Linked DNA regions of Homo sapiens: region 2 is linked to region 1. Evidence: fine-mapped expression QTL. A gene starts in region 1. The other region holds a variant in brackets. All regions are shown on one strand. Distances are between the middles of the regions. Region 1 holds the start of NTAQ1 (N-terminal glutamine amidase 1). Region 2 overlaps NTAQ1 (N-terminal glutamine amidase 1).

Region 1 (8,332 bases):
AGTGAGACCCTGTCTCAAAAAAAAAAAAAAAAAAAGGCAAAAAATAACAGACGCTGGCAAGTTGGTGGAGAAAAGGGGATGCTTATACACTCCTGGTGGGAATGTAAATTAGTTAAGCCACTGTGGAAAGCAGTTTGGAGATTTTTCAAAGAACTTGAAACAGAACTATGATGCGACCTAGCAATCCCATTACTGTGTATATACCCAAAGGAATATAAATCCTACTATTAAGACACATGCACATATATGTTCATCACAGCACTATTCATGATAGCAAAGATGTAGAATCAACCTAGGCACCTATCAATGGTGAACTGGATCAAGAAAATGTGGTATATATCATCCACCATGGAATACTACACAGCAATGACAAAGAACAAAAATCATGTCATTTGCAGCAACATGGATGGAGCTGGAGGCCAATATCCCAAGTGAATTAACACAGGGACAGAAAAGCAAACACTGAATATTCTTGCGTATAAGTGGGAGCTAAACCTTGAGTACACATGGACACAAAAAAGGAAACAGTAGACATGGGGCCTACTTGAGGGTAGAGGGTGACAGGAGGGTGAGGATCAAAACTATCTATCTGGTAGTATGCTCACTATCTGGGTGACAAAATAATTTGTACACCAAACCCCCAACACATACACTTTACCCATGTAACAAACCTGCACATGTAACCCCAAATCTAAAATAAAAGTTGGAAGGGAAAAAAACTCAAACAAAATATGTGATTGGATAATATCTGAAATGTTCTTTAAACTCTAAACAAAAGCATAAGGGACTCAAAAAAGGGAGAGAGGGAGGGAGGGAAGAAAGGAATGAAGGAAGGAGGGAGGGAGGGAGGGAAGAAAGGAAGGAAGGAAGGGAGGGAGGGAGGGAGGGAGGGCTGTGGATTTGCCCCAAGCTGTCAGCTGATCATCTTGGCAGCAGAAAGGTTGGGACACTCCAGGGGTTCCCAGTGATGAGCTGAGGTCAGAGATGCATGCAGATGGGGAGGACCCCTGGCACAAAGCAGGCACTCCACAATTGTTTGAAAAACACAAAACAATTAAGTCAGAATCAGAAATGCTCTGCTGACGACACAGTCCCAAACAAATACTGGCTGCCACTATTATCATTAAGCAGGGTCTTGAAGCGTAAGTAACATCTGGAAGCTAACATGACGGAAGCTAACAGAAGTAGACAGGAGGCATTCATTTCAACTTAAAAAACCTGCAGGATGGCCGGGCACGGTGACTCACACCTGTAATCCCAGAATTTTGGGAGGCTGAGGCAGGTGGATCACCTGAGGTCAGGAGTTCAAGACCAGCCCAGCCAATGTGGTGAAACCCCGTCTCTACTAAAAATACGAAAATTAGCTGGGCATGGTGGTGGGTGCCTGTAGTCCCAGCTACTCAGGAGGCTGAGGCAGAAGAATGGCTTGAGCCTGGGAGGTGGAGGCTGCAGTGAGCCAAGATGGCATCATTGCACTCCAGCCTGGGCAACAGACTGAGACTCTGTCTCAAAAAAAAAAAAAAAAAAAAAAAAAAAAAAAAAAACCCCCAAAGCTGCAGGAGCCAAAGTAGTGTGGTGTCCCCACCTGATGTGTTCAGACAGGGTAGAGCACTGGTTCTCAGCAAGAGGCGATTTTGCCCCCCAACCCCTACAGGACACTTAGCAATGTCTGGAGACATTTTTGGTTGTCATAACTAGGGCTAGGGTGCTAACAGTATCTAGTGGGTAGAAGCCAGGGATGCTGCTACACGTCCTGCAATACACAGGACAGCCTCCATAGCAAGGAATTATCATGCTCAAAATGTCACTCAAGCCAAGATGGAGAAACTCTGTGGTAGAGTGGTCATCTCTTACCATTCTTCTACAAGACTGCTCTAACTCCAATACTCCAGTTGTACCAGCCTCCTCACTGTTCCTATCACACTCACAGCACCATTCCTTCTCAGAGCCTTTGTACCTGCTGTTCTCCCTGCTTAAACAACCATCCTCCAATAGTTGCAAAGCTCCCACCCTCTTTTTTCAGATCTCTTTTCAAATATCACCTTATCAACAATGTCTTCTCAAAATATCCTAATAGAAGATAAGTCACCATCCTTTATCTTATTTTTCTCATAGTATTTAACATCACCCAAACATGGTTTACTTGTTTTTTTGGCTTTTTATTTTTTTTTTTTTTTTGAGATGGAGTCTTGCTCTGTTGCCCAGGCAGGAAGGGGCAGTGGCATCAGCTCACTGGAACCTCCACCTCCCAGGTTCAAGCGATTTTCCTGCCTCAGCTTCCCGAGTAGCTGGGATTACAGGTGCACGCCACCACACCTGGCTAATTTTTGTATTTTTAGTAGAGGCAGGGTTTCTGCATGTCGGCCAGGCTGGTCTCAGACTCCTGGCCTCAAGAGATCCGCCCACCTCGGCCTCCCAAAGTGCTGGAATTACAGGCGTGAGCCATCGCACCGGGCCTTATCTGCTTTTCTCTCAAAATGAAAGAACCAAGGGATCCATGAGGGAATTTGTCGATTTTGTTCACTGCTATATCCCCAGTGCCCAGAAGTATGCCACATACTCCAAGTGCCTAATAAACATTTATTGAATGAATGAATAAAACAATGACTGGACATTAGGGAGGAGAACTAACGGGATTTAGAAGAGAGGCAGGACAGAAAAATAGTGCAGTAGTTAAGATGCATGAACTTCAGAATCACGAAGAGGTTCCAGTTTCAGCACCACCACTTGCTAGATGTGTGATTTGGGGGCACAGAACAGCCTCTCTGTGGCTCAGTCTTTTTATTAGTAAAATGAGGATAACGATAATAAAAGAAGGTACCTCCTGGACATCGATGGAAGCACCTGCCACTGAGCCTGACATGCAATCAGGGCCGAACAAATGTTAAGCTCTTGGTGGCATTGGTTTAGTGACCAGCAGAAGGGGGAGGAGTAGGTTTAGATAGCACTGAGGTTTCCTGTACAAGGACTAGAAGCTGGGGAAGAAGCCATTACTCAGGAAAGAGTAGGTATGAGGACTAAGGCAAGGGCGGTACTTCAGCTGCAGAGGTGGCCTAGGACAGGGGTGCACTGCGTGGATTCCGGGGCCAGACCCTGACTGTAAATCCCCACTCCTTCATTCACAAGCTACGTGGCCCTGCGCAAATTACTTGCAGCCCTCTGTGCTTCAGTGCTCTCATCTTTCAACTGGGGATAACAATACCTACCTCTTACGGTTATTGTGATGCTCAGTGATTTAGTTTACCTAAACCACCCAGAACAACGCGTGGCATATAGCAAGTGCTGTATGAAAAACTCTCCGTGCCTTCATTCTCTTACAAAATTAAAATGACCTTCACCTCAGTCTGAAACCCCACAGGCTTCAGCAGAGTAACCCCCAAAGATTTTCAGAGCTCCACCCTTCCTGGCCCCGAAGCAGAGATCTGCTGAGCAAATCCAACCGACAAGCGCCAGGCACAGGTAATGCACTATCGACCCTATGATTCCGGACGAATTCCCAACCCCATCCAATAGCCCACGCTCTACTCAAGAGACGAGAGCTGCCATTCCCGCTCCCTCCTCCCGCAAAACTGTAGAACCCGCCGGTAGAGGCCGGGAGCGCCCCCGAGGAGGGGCCGGGAAGAGGCGGGGCCCGGTTGCGACTCGCCGCCCGGGAGCCTGGGAGACCCAGAGGCTGCGCCCGCGCCCCCTCACCAGTAGCAGCTGCTGTAGACGCAGGCGTCCCGCGGGGGGCTGGCCGGCTGGTAGTGGACAGCAGCGGGGCCATTACCTTCCATGGCCGGCTAGCTGGGCCAGGGCCCGGGCCGGAGGAAGACCGACTGGACCAGACGTAGGAAAGGGCGGGCTTGTAGTGGCCCGCGTGGGTTCCCGGCGTGGGGTGGGCGGAGCCCGGGGGGAGAGGGCCGGGGCAGTTTCCGGGTGGTGGGGCCAGTAGCGCGGTGGGCGGGGCCAGGGCGGGACTAGCAGCACGAGTTCCCGGCGCGGGAAGCCCGGGACGAAGTAGGCGGAGCTCGGGGCAAGCGGCGCCAGTTCCTGGGAGGGTGGAGCCCAAGCGAAGTGGGCGGGTCCGGGGTGGGGTGAGTGGCGCGAACTCCCGGTGGGCGGAGCCCGGGACGAGGAGGACAGCGCGCTTCCGGGTAGGCGGAGCCCGGCTGGTGGGTGGGGCCCGGGATGGGGCGGGACTGGAGGACCGGGCTCTGGTGGGCGGAGTCAGGGGCGGGGCCCCGGTGAGCTTTGGGAGAAGAGGGGTCTCTGGCGGCGGCTTGGGGAGGAGCTAGGTTTGGGCTTGGAGTTGGGCCCTGAATGGCGCTTTGCTGTGAATCTCCGCGGGGAGGCTCTTCCAACCAGGGGCTGAGCTTCTGCGCTGTGGAGAAGCCAGGTGAGACACTGAAATAACAGAGGTTTGGGTGTGAAAATCCACGCTTCTGCACTCAGCCTGGAGTCTGCGGGAGCCCAGAGAAGAGGGGAGTGGAGGTTAATTCCAATATGACCGCATCGAGGACGCTTTCCGAAAGGGATAGCACCCCAAATCTCACTCTATTGTAACTTAATCTTTTAAATTGGAAGGCCTGTAGCTATTGGCTCGAAAAGATATATTAATTCCCTGATACAGTAAATTTGAAAAAAAAAAGTTTAAAGAGTCCATATGGTATCCTTTTTGTGTTAATCATATATTTTGTTCAATTACTGGCAGTCTGGAAGAAAAGACACCATATTGTTAAAATAGTGTTTAGGGCCGGGTGCGGTGGCTCACGCCTGTAATCCCAGCACTTTGGGAGACCGAGGCGGGTGGATCACGAGGTCAGGGGTTCGAGACGAGCCTGGCCAACATGGTGAAACTCCGTCTCTACTAAAAATACAAAAATTAGTTGGGCGTGGAGGCGCGCGCCTGTAATCCCAGATACTCGGGAGGCTGAGGCAAGAGAATCGCCTGAACCCGGGAGGCGGAGGTTGCAGTGAGCCGAGATGGTGCCATTGCACTCCAGCCTGGGCAACAGGGTGAGACTCCGTCTCAAAAAAAAAAAATAGTGTTTATCTCTGGTGAATGAATGATATTAATATCAGGGACTTTCAGTTTCAAGGTCTTTACACTTTACAGTCTTCTGAATTGTTTATATTTGCAATGAGCATAGCTAGCTAATCAGGGTACTTCCCATTATAAAAACTGAGATGTTTACATTGATTTTAGCCATCCACAGTTGGATTCTCCAATCTCTTCAGTCTCAAAGCTGATAAATCCTAAAGACTTGGAGCACAGTTCCTGTGTCAATTACCAATTTTATTGCCTCTCAGCTCCTAATACAAACTTCCACATAGCCTCTATGCTATATAACAACTCTGGTAAACATTTCTCCTTTAAAGTGAGTGGGAAACCCTATAAGCTAGAAGGGATTGGGGCCCTATCTTTAGCCTCCTCAAACAAAACAATTATCAGCCAATAATTTTGTATCCAGCGAAACTAAGCATCATATATTAAGGAAAGATACAGTCTTTTTCAGACAAATGGTGAGAGAATTTGCCACTACCAAGCCACCACTACAGGAACTGCTAAAAGGAGTTCTAAATCTTGAAACAAATCCTGGAAACACATCAAAACAGAACCTCGTTAAAGCATAAATCACACAGGACCTATACAACAAAAATACAATTTAAAAAACAACAAAAAAAAACAAGGTACACAGGCAACAAAGCACGATGAATGGAATGGTACCTCACAAGTCAATCCTAACATTGAATGTAAATGGTCTAAATGCTCCATTTAAAGTGAGTGGGACAGGTGTAGTGGTGAGAACATCCTTGTGGAGTCTGCCCCAGCCCCAGACTCAGAACATGGTCCCTTCCTAACCTTGCAGGTTTAGCCTGGCAATAACCTTTCTTCAGCCTCTTGACACAAAAACCAGGGTCCTCCCTAACCCTACCTTCTATACGGTAAGGTACTGAATAGAGTTTCCTTATGTGTTATCGTTATGCCTTTATCATAGTTAATAATAATTTTTTGGTGGGGGACAGGGTCTCCCTCTGTCACCCAGGCTGGAGTGCAGTGGTGCAATCATAGCTCACTACAGCCTCAAACTCCTGGGCTCAAGTGATCCTCCAGCCTCAGCCTCCTGAGTAGCTGAGACTGCAGGCACGCACCACCGTGCGCAGCTAACATAATTAATAGTTCTTTACATTTAACTTCCCTTGCTTGACCTACTGTGTAGTTTCTTATCCTGATTGGGCACAAACTACTTACTATAGGACTTTGAAGCTAGGCTGGGTAGGTTCTACAACTTGCCAGTTGGGTCACCTTGGGCAAAGTTACTTCACTCTTCTGTGTCTCACTTTCCTCATCTGTAAAATGAAGTTAAAGATAATGCTACTACCTCATAGGGTCATTATGAGGATTAGTTGAGTTTATGTATATAAAGTACTTAGAATAGTTGGTAGCATATAATATAAATGTTAGCAACTATGATTTTTTGTTAAAAAAATCTGATTTCATTATTTCCCGCATACCCTATACTTTTTTTTTTTTTTTTTTTTTTTTTTTTGAGATAAGAGTCTCACTCTGTCGCCCAGGCTGGAGTGCTGTGGTGCAATCTTGACTCACTGCAACCTCCGCCCCCACCACCCCAGCTAAATTGTGTATTTTCTTGTGGAGGTGAGGTTTCACCATGTTGGCCAGGCTGGTCTCAAATTCCTGACCTCAAGTGATCTGCCCGCCTCGGCCACCCTCCCCGCCGCCATACTCTTGTCACTGAGTGTCTTATTCTTCCTTTGATACCCCAAGCCTTTGCACAAGATGTATGTACACTCTGTCTGATGCATTCTTTCACATGCCTTATTTGCAGCTTTTCCCAGGAAGAGTTTATTGTTGGCTTCCATCTTCCTGGAGCTTTTTTTCCTGTTTTGTCACAACTTTTATTCATATGTCTTGAAAAGCAGTAGCATGCTCAGCAACTCAATCTGTCTCTACCTCTGCCATGAGCTCTTCCAGGGCATGGGTCTTGCCCTGAGAGGTAGAATAGTATAAATAGTGCTGTAGTCAGAAACACACTCAAATCTTATCTTGGCTACTTACTACCCTGAGTGACCTTGGATAAGTAACACTAGGATTTCTGAGCGTCAGTTTCTTTGCAAAATGAGGATAATAATAGTAGAGTGCTTATCTAATGGGTGCTGCAGTGAAAATTAAATAAACTAATCTCTGCAAAACACTTAGCATAGTGCCTGGCAGAACATAGGTACTGTCAAAAATAAACATAGCCGTTGACCATCAGTCAAAGCGATGAAAACAGATTTTATTCAGCAACTATTGACAGTAGGGGAAAGAGCTGAGCTCCATTCCAATTGTGCAGAGGTAATTTGGGCATTTGGAAAGAAGAATGAGGAAGCAGGGAGGAGTTGGGGGGGGGGGGGCGCTCATTAGAGCCAGGGAAGTGAAAATTACAAAGGGTTGGTCAGTGTAAATACCATTAGGCCAGTCGTGTCTGCTAGCTGGCAGTTATCTAAGTTAGGATTCTATCCTCCCACAGAGACTGGGAGTCAGAGGCCCTATCCTTCCTGATGATTACATTTCAAAGGAATGGCTCTCTAAGTCCTTGAGAAGGACTTCTGAGTTGTAAGTAATACATATTTACAATTCTAAGCCCTTTTAGTAAATGCTCTAAGAAAAGGAGGTCAGGGGCCTATCATCAGGTACTGGCAACAACAAATAGTAAATTTTCCTGGGAGCTTTGAGCTTTCTTAAGCAGGCATTTTAATGGGGGGTTTGGGGGAGAAGGCTGACATAGCCTTATACTGCTAGAAGCCATGCTAGAGTTTGGTCAAGTCTGTTAGTGCAGGGATTTGGAACCAAGTTGTGCTGAGAGTTCTGCAGTACTCAGTACCCTACGTAATAAACAACTACATAGGCCAGGTGTAGTGGCTCACCCCTGTAATCCTAGAACTTTGGGAGACCAAGGCGGGAGGATCGCTTGAGGTCAGTTTGAGACCAACCTAAGCAACACAGCAAGACCCTGTCTCTACAAAAAAAAAATTTTTTTTAATTAGCCAGGCATGGTGGTATCTGTAGTCCTAGGCACCCAGGAGGCTGAAGCAAAAGAATTGCTTGAGCCCAGGAGTTTGAGGCTGCAGTGAACTGTGATTACGCCACTGCACTCCAGCCTGGGCAACAGAGTGAGACCCTCATCTCTTAAAAAATAAATAAAATAACTTAAAAAAACTACATAATTTTGCAGTTATGATTATTATCACATAGCTCTGAGCAGGGTGTAAGCATTGTAGTTGGCATAAATCCTTGTTGAATTGATATTTTTATTAATTAAAATACAGGTGACATTGCTGTAAC
Region 2 (8,332 bases), 29 kb before region 1:
GGAGTGCAGTGATGTGATCTCAGGCTCACTACAACCTCCGCCTACCACACCCGGCTACCAACTCCTATTTGACAGCTCCTGTTAGACATCCAACTGGCACCTCAAATTTAACATGCCCCCAGTAAAACTCCTGATCTTCCTCCCCAAAATTACTCCACCCACAATCTTCCCCAACTCAGTAAATAGCAACCAATCTTCCACACATTGTAGAAGTTCATTGTCTGTCTTCTCCACAAGAATGTAATATCCATGAGCGCAGGACTCACTGCTGAATCACCAGGGCAGTGATACAGCAACAGTAGAGGTCTTGAACTCCTGGCCTCAAGTGATCTGCCCACTTCAGCCTCCCAAAGTGCTGGGATTATAGGCATGAGCCACCACACGCAGCCCTCCAGCTCTTTTAAATAAGCATCCTCCATGAAGAATTTCTGCAAATCATCAAGCTGTTAATTGCTATATGCTGAATGTACACAAGCCCCTACCAGTCTGAGAGTCCTGTGTAAATCATTTTCTCTTTCAAATCCTGATGAAAAAGGGACTCAAAGAGAATCCAAACCACAGCCTGCAGGCTTCCTCATGCTTCTGCTTCACTACTGAGCCAGCCACTGGTCATGGTGTGTACTGCTGTCAACCACCAAAATACCAGACTCAGTCAGAACACTGCTGTCCACTGTTCTACGGAAAATCAGCAGCTACCTCCAAGGCTCCCACAGAGCCACATGGGGCCCCCAGTGACACAGTTCTTTCTTTCCTTCCCAGGAGACAGGGCTTTCAAGAGAGTAAGAGAGTACAGGTAAGGGTGCACCGTGGCACATCTCTCATGGCACCTGCCATCAAGGAACACTCTAATGTATAATCATCTAGTCTGGTCCTCTCAGCCAGATGTCATCTTCACTTACATTGATTTTCTCTCAGGGACCTGTTCATGTTTTTCTCTCCTCTAGCAAAGACATCTTTGAGGACCTCTAGCCCACGGGACAAGCCTATAAACGTCTGAACCCTAAATGAGAACACAGACCATTTGGCTTCTTTCCCACAAGGCTCCTGAACCTCATGCAAAACAACAGGACTGGATAGACGTCTGTGTTCAGGGTTTGTGAACATTCTGGGAAGGGCAGTAATTCCACAAAAACTGTGGGACACTAAGGGGGCAGTCTGCGCAAGGACACAGAGGCTTACACCACAAATTCTTCTTATTCTTTTTCGACGGAGTCTCACTCTTGTCGCCCAGGCTGGAGTGCAGTGGTGCAATCTTGGCTCACTGCAACCTCCACCTCCCGGGTTCAAGCAATATCTCAAGTGATACTCAAGCCTCCCGAGTAACTGGGATTACAGGCATGCGCCACCATACCTGGCTAATTTTTGTATTTTGGGGAGAGATGGGGTTTCACCCTGTTGGCCAGGCTGGTCTCGAACTCCTGACCTCAAGTGATCCACCCGCCTTGGCCTTCCAAAGTGCTGGGATTACAGGCGTGAGCCACCGTACCCGGCCTGGAACACCACAAATTCTTATTTCTGACCCAGCTAAAAATATCGTTACATGCTTGAATGGGCACTGAATTATTTAGGGAGGACTAAATGGCCAAATCAAAACTCACCAAGAATTCTGTGACTTAAAAAATACATAAGTTTGTCTCCTATGAAAGAGTTCCACAATATACTATTTAGGCAGGCATGCAACTCGGCTCCATAGAGTTATCAGGAATCCAGGCTGATGGTGGCTCTTCTGCCTTTGATAAGTAGCTTCCGAGGTCACTCCAGTCATCACCATTTCATCTGGTAAGAAAGTAGGCAAAGGTGTGAAGGAGTGGGCACGAGTTTCACAGGTCAGTCATGTAAGTGGCACACACACTTCCTCTTATATTCAGCTGGTCACATGGCCACACTGGCTGCAAAGGAGAATGGGAAATGTAGTCCATGGCAGAGCAGCCACACACCAGTCACAGCTCTGTTGCTGTAGAACAAGGGACAGCAAACTACAGCCCAAGGGCCAAATCTACCAGCTCTTGGTTTTGCAGAGTTGTTTTTTGTTTTTTGTTATTTTTTTCTGCCATATACAAACATATTTTTATATGAAATTATATAAAATACAGAAAGAGGCACAATGAATGTATGCAGTTAGAAAGCAGGATGGTGGTTACCCTTAGCGAGTAAGGAGGTGATCAGAAAGCAGCAGGAAGCTTCTCAGGTGCTTTTTTTCCTTAATTTGAATCCTGGCTCTACTACTTACTGGCTAGTGACTTGGTGAGCTATATGAAAACCTCTCTCTGCATCAGTTTCCTCATCTGTAAAATAGGGATTAAAAATAGTGCCAACCCCATCAGATTGTCAGAAAATTGCCTGGCATACAATGACTTCTAGATAATACACAATGAGCTCTATTAGTTAGTTTCTCTAGACAGTTATATTCTTAAAACCAGGGTGATTATCAAAAAGGACATTAGATTTATCCATCACATTGTGTATTTTTTAAAAAAGAACACGTTCATATATTAATTATAAATAAAAGTTAACCTTGTAATATGAACATTAAGCAAAAGACAAGCACTGCTCTTTAGTTGTATGTGCATCTGAGCCTAAGATTAGGTTTTATTATAAATATGTAAGTATAATTTTTTTTAATAGTAAGCAACTCAAGCCTAGCAAAAATACTACTTCTATTGCTACTCAGTGAAAAAGCATATTTATATATTTAAAAAGTACAAGGACACCTAGACAGAAAAGTAAACTTAGAATGAGGTTTCTGATAATGAAGGTTATTGTTCTTCCTCTCTATAGATAGACAGACAGAATATTCAAGCAGACAATGAACAGGGCACAGATGATAACAGAACCCTGACCCCCAGCTCGGCGGCAATCAGCATGGAGAGATCAGGACGTGGTCAAAACTTGCAGGCTTCCCCCATGTTGTTGTTGTTCTTACTTTCAACATGGAACCAGACAGAGAAAACCAAACATACTCCTCCAACCAATCACTTAGGATGTCCAGCTTCTAGTTGGAAAAAGAAATCCATGTTTTTCCTTAACTTCCTAAGTTCATAGTTGGAGCAGAGTCTGTTGCGGAGGCTGTAAGTCCAAGATCAGGGCTGAGCAGATTATGTTGTCTGGTGAGGACTTGGTCTCTGCTTTGAAGATGGCACTGATACGGCTCCGATGAGTGGAGGAGCACCAGGGCTCGTCTTGCGCGAATTGGATAAAACAACACAGACACAGTTGGAGTGGTTTTAAGGAGCAGAGTGTTTAAAAGGCAAGAAAGAAGAGAGAAGAAAGAAGGAAAAAGCTCTCCAGAGGGAGGAGGGCTCCAAAGACAAGAAAGGAGACCCAGGTTTTGCAAAGTTTTATTGGAGCTCAGCCACACCTATTCATTTACATATTGTCTGTGGCTGCTGTTTTCGGCTACAAAGGCAGAGTT[G/A]AGTAGTTGTGGCAGAGGCCTTATGGCCTGCAAAGTCTAACATTTACTGTTTGGCCATTTACAGAAAACATTTGCCAACTCCTGCTCTAGAAAAAGAAGAGAATGGGCCAGTTGCAGTGGCTGATGCCTGTAATCCCAGCACTTTGGGAGGCTGAGGTGGGGGGAATCACTTGAGGCCAGAGTTTGAGACCAGCCTGGCCAACATGGTGAACCTCTGTCTCTACTATAATAAAAACACACACACACACAAAATTAGCCAGGTGTGGTAGCGCACCTGTAATCCCAGCTACTCAGGAGGCTGAGGCACGAGAATCGCTTGAACCTGGGAGGCGGAGGTTGCAGTGAGCTGAGATCGTGCCATTGCACTCCAGTCTGGGTGACAGAGTGAGACTCTGTCTGGAAAAAAAGAAAGGAAAGGAAAGGAAAAAGGAAAAAGGAAAAGGAAAGAAAAGAGAATGGATTTGGTGGGACAACCAGCAGCCTATGGTTTCAAAATTCATCTTGGGGGTGGGTGAGGTGGCTCACGCCTGTAATCCCAGCACTTTGGGAGGCTGAGGCAGGCGGATCTCTTGAGGCCAGGAGTTCGAGACCAGCCTGGCCAACATGGTGAAACCCTGTCTCTATTAAAAATACAAAAATTAGCCAAGTGTGGTGGTGCACGCCTGTAATCCCAGCTAATGCGGAGGCTGAGGCAGGAGAATCACTTCAACCCGGGAGGCGGAGGCTACAATGAGCTGAGATCACAACACTGCACTCCAACCTGGGCAACAGAGTGCGACTCTGTCTCAAAAAACAAAAAACTTAAAAAATTTTTAAAAATTCACCTTGGAAATTTTTATGAAGACACATAAACAAAAACATTTATTGTAGCATTTTTTTTGGCACACCAAGAAGCAAAAAACAACTTATAAAGGACTGTTAAATTATGGACCATATGTATCGCAGAATACAATGTAGCCTTTAAAAATAATGTAGATATTTTCTCATTCTTGTTGATTTTCCAATCAATATGTACTGACTAGAAAACATCCAAATATATTAACTTTAAAAAGTAAAATGTATTTTTCTTTGTTTAGTGAAGGGAAAAAAGTAAAATACAGAACAATATGTTTAGGATGCTACCATTTGTCGGGGGGGTGGGGAAACAAAATTTAATATATAATACATACCTATATGTTTACATAGAAAATTCCTGGAAAGAAGGATACAAAATAACCTGAAAAAGAGGTTATTTCTGGGTGGGAACATCAGAAAATTGGAGGACAAAGCAGGAGGGAAGTTTACTTTTCACCAAATACTCTTTTATACATTTTGAATTGGTACAATGTACATGGTACCATCTATTTTTTAATTAATTAAAAATTAAACCAAGAAAAACACACAAAAAGGTTTGCATTTACTACCATTGCTAACCAACTCCTCTTCTGAAAGACATAATTTCCTTAAAAGCTCCAATAATATCTTCAATCAGGGATAGCCAGTTCTACTGAGCTGGGAACCATTTTATATTTTCATATTTGCTTCCCAACTCCTTGGTGTGTCAGGTTCTCAGAGATACTCTGTTTCTGTTGCTTTCATAGTCAGTTTACAAATTCTGCTTTAGGCTGGGCACCGTGGCTCACGCCTGTAATCCCAGCACTTTGGGAGGTCGAGGCAAGTGGATCACGAGGGCAGAAGATAGAGACCATCCTGGCTAACACGGTGAAACCCCGTCTCCACTAAAAATATAAAAAGAAATTAGCTGGGCGTAGTGGTGGGCACCTGTGGTCCCAGCTACTCAGGAGGCTGAGGCAGGAGAATGGCGTGAACCCGGGAGGCAGAGCTTGCAGTGAGCCAAGATCATGCCACTGCACTCCAGCCTGGGCGATAGAGCGAGACTCCCTCTCAAAAAGAAAATTTTTTGCTTTAGTCAGCCAGGCACTATGGTTCATACCTGTAATCCCAGCATTTTGGGAGGCCAAAGTGGGTGGATTACTTGAGGTCAGGAGTTCGAGACTAGCCTGGCCAACATGGTAAAATCCCATCTCTACTAAAAATACAAAAATTAGCCAGGTGTAGCGGCGCATGCCTGTAATCCCAGAAACTCAGGAAGCGGAGGCAGGAGAGTCACTTAAATCTGGGAGGTGGAAGTTGCAGTGAGCCAAGATTGTGCCACTGCACTCTAGCCTGGGAAACAGAGCAAGACGGCATCTCAAACAAAAAGAAGCAAACAAACAAAATTCTACTTTAGTCCCCTGCTTTTCTTGAAATATCTTCTTTCCATACAGAAAATCTTCTCACACATGTTGAATATTAAGAGAAAGAAATCTGACCTCAAAAGAAAAATTGTCTTAGTTTGGGTTCAAAAAAAAAAAAGAAAAAGTTTAAATAGAAAAATTAAGCACAGAGAGACATAAATAACAGTTCCTAAGCCCGATAAACAACTCTGAAGAAAAATCTTGTAAGAAAACCTATCTTTCAGTTAAAAATGACAGAAATCCAGCTCGCACAAGCTGAAGAGAAAAAGGAATCCACTGGCTCATAGAACCAGGAACCGCAGGCCAGGCGCAGTGGCTCACACCTGTAATCTCAGCACTTTCAGAGGCCGAGGTGGGCAGACTGCTTGAGTCCCGGAGTTCAAGACCAGCCTGAGCAATGTGGCAAAACCCCATCTCTACTAAAAATATAAAAATTAGCTGGGCACTGTGGCACGCCTGTAGTCCCAGCTACTCAGAAGGCTGAGGTGGGAGGATCGCTTGAGCCTGGGAGGTGGAGGTTGCAGTAAGCAGAGATCACACCAGTGCTCTCCAGCCTCGGTGACAGAGCAAGAGAGTCTCAAAAACAAAAAAGGTGGGCTTGGCTTCAAGCACAGATCAATCTGATACAGAGCAGGCAAGCCCCAAAGTAGGGCTGAGCCCATGAGACTTCTTGGCTTTGCCCAGGAAAGAATTCAAGGGCAAGCTGAAGGTAAAAGAAAACAGCTTTATTGAAGCGGTAGTGTTACAACCCTGTGACTGCTCCTGCAGAGCAGGTTTACCCTGTAGGCAGACAGGAGCAGCTCCGGGCAGTCTGGCAGCCACATTTATACCTACTTTTAATAACATGCAAATTTGGCCGGGTGCGGTGGCTCATGCCTGTAATCCCAGCACATTGGGAGGCGGAGCCAGGCAGATCACCTGAGGTCAGGAGTTTGATACCAGCCTAGTTAGCATGGCAAAACCCCGTCTCTATTAAAAATACAAAAATTAGCTGGGCATGGTGGTACACACCTGTAATCCCAGCTACTCGGGAGGCTGAGGCATGAGAATCGTTTGAACCTGGGAGGCAGAGGTTGCAGTGAGCCGAGATCATGCCACTGCACTCCAGCCTGGGCGACAGAGTGAGACTTTGTCTCAAAATAAATAAGTAAATAAAAATAACATGCAGATTAAAGGGCAGTTTATGCAGAAATTTCTAGGGAAGGGGGCCGGGCGCGGTGGCTCATGCCTGTAATCCCAGTACTTCGGGAGGCGAAAGTGGGCAGATCACCTGAGGTCAGGAGTTCAAGACCAGCCTGGCCAACGTGGTGAAACCACGTCTCTACTAAAATACAAAAATTCGCTGGGCATGGTGGCGCACACCTGTAATCCCAGCTACTCAGGAGGCTGAGGCACGAGAATCACTTGAACCTGGGAAGTGGAGGTTACAGTGAGCCGAGATCGTGCCGCTGCACTCCAGCCTGGGTGACAGAGCAAGACTCTGTCTCTAAATGAATAAATAAATGGTTACATTTGTACCCTCCATAAGGTGGAGGATTACCATTAAATGTCAGTTTCTTTTCTTTTTTTTTTTTTTTCTGAGATGGAGTCTTGCTCTGTCACCCAGGCTGGAGTGCAGCAGCATGATCTCAGCTCACTGCAACTTCCACCTCCCAGGTTCAAGCAATTCTGCCTCAGCCTCCCAAGTAGCTGGCATTACAGGCGCCCGCCACCACACCCAGCTAATTTTTATATTTTTAGTAGAGACAAGGTTTCACCACGTTGGCCAAGCTGGTCTCAAACTCCTGACCTCATGATCCGCCCACCTAGGACTCCCAAAGTGCTGAGATTACACGCATGAGCCACCATGCCCAGCTGATAGTTTCTTAATAAGTAGAAAGCTCATCTAAGAACAAAAGGTCAGACATCCTTGCTATAAGAAGTTGTTCATTTTTAAAGTAGAATCATGAAAACATGAGAGCTGGTACTATATGCCAATGTAATGCCAAATATCTTTCATTTGGAATGATATGATTAAAGCCAAATAACCAAGATGTCTTCCAGAAGGCACATGTAATAAATATTTTTTAAAGCCCTGGTTCTCATCTACAATTGAGGCATATTTAGGTATTTCAGATCATCAAGGGTGACACAAAAATCTTCAAAACAAAACTAACGTTAAATCGATTTTATTTAAAGCCATAAATAAATAAGCCAATTAACGCTCAAGTCTGAGAGGGCTGCAGTCTTTTTAACAATACCATAGTCCAAAAAGACTAATACTTATTGCTGATTCAGCTCACAATATTACCCCTTTCCAGACAACAGCACATTCAAATGTTCAAGAAAACATTTTATGGGCACCTTTTATGGGCATTTGAGATTCACAGAGCAATGGGCCATGGCCCTGCCCTCAAGGAACTTACAATGTAGCTGGAGAGACACAAAACATCCAAAACAGACATGAGGGGCTGGCTCTACCTCCACACCTCTATCTGAACAAAAACGATTACTGGCTTAAGTCCTCGTGTTGTAACGCATGAGCCACAGGAATATCTTAGCAAGTACGCACTTTATCAAGTTTCAATTTGACATGTCAAAACAAAAGTTTTTATGTTGTTCATTTATATTTGTATTCACTCAGATTTCCACTCAATCAAATTAAAAGAGAAAGACATAATTCCAAGCCAACTGTACCATAATG

What was found.
Region 2: its variant is fine-mapped to the expression of NTAQ1 in whole blood (INTERVAL, PIP above 0.99).

What each region holds. Positions count from the first base shown.
Region 1 is chr8:123,412,294-123,420,625 of GRCh38, reverse strand. It overlaps NTAQ1 (N-terminal glutamine amidase 1), which reads right to left and starts at 3,852. Exons shown (of 6, transcript NM_018024.3): 1 at 3,694-3,852. The coding sequence starts at 3,776. It also overlaps a transcript of ATAD2 not described here. RefSeq lists silencers at 3,114-3,163, 3,484-3,683, 3,794-4,273, 6,191-6,391 and an enhancer at 3,086-3,680.
Region 2 is chr8:123,441,491-123,449,822 of GRCh38, reverse strand. NTAQ1 (N-terminal glutamine amidase 1) reads right to left here. Exons shown (of 6, transcript NM_018024.3): 6 at 7,583-8,332. Among named protein-coding and RNA genes, the nearest start is that of NTAQ1, 29 kb to the right of the region's middle. The variant G/A (reference allele first, on the strand shown) is at 3,413.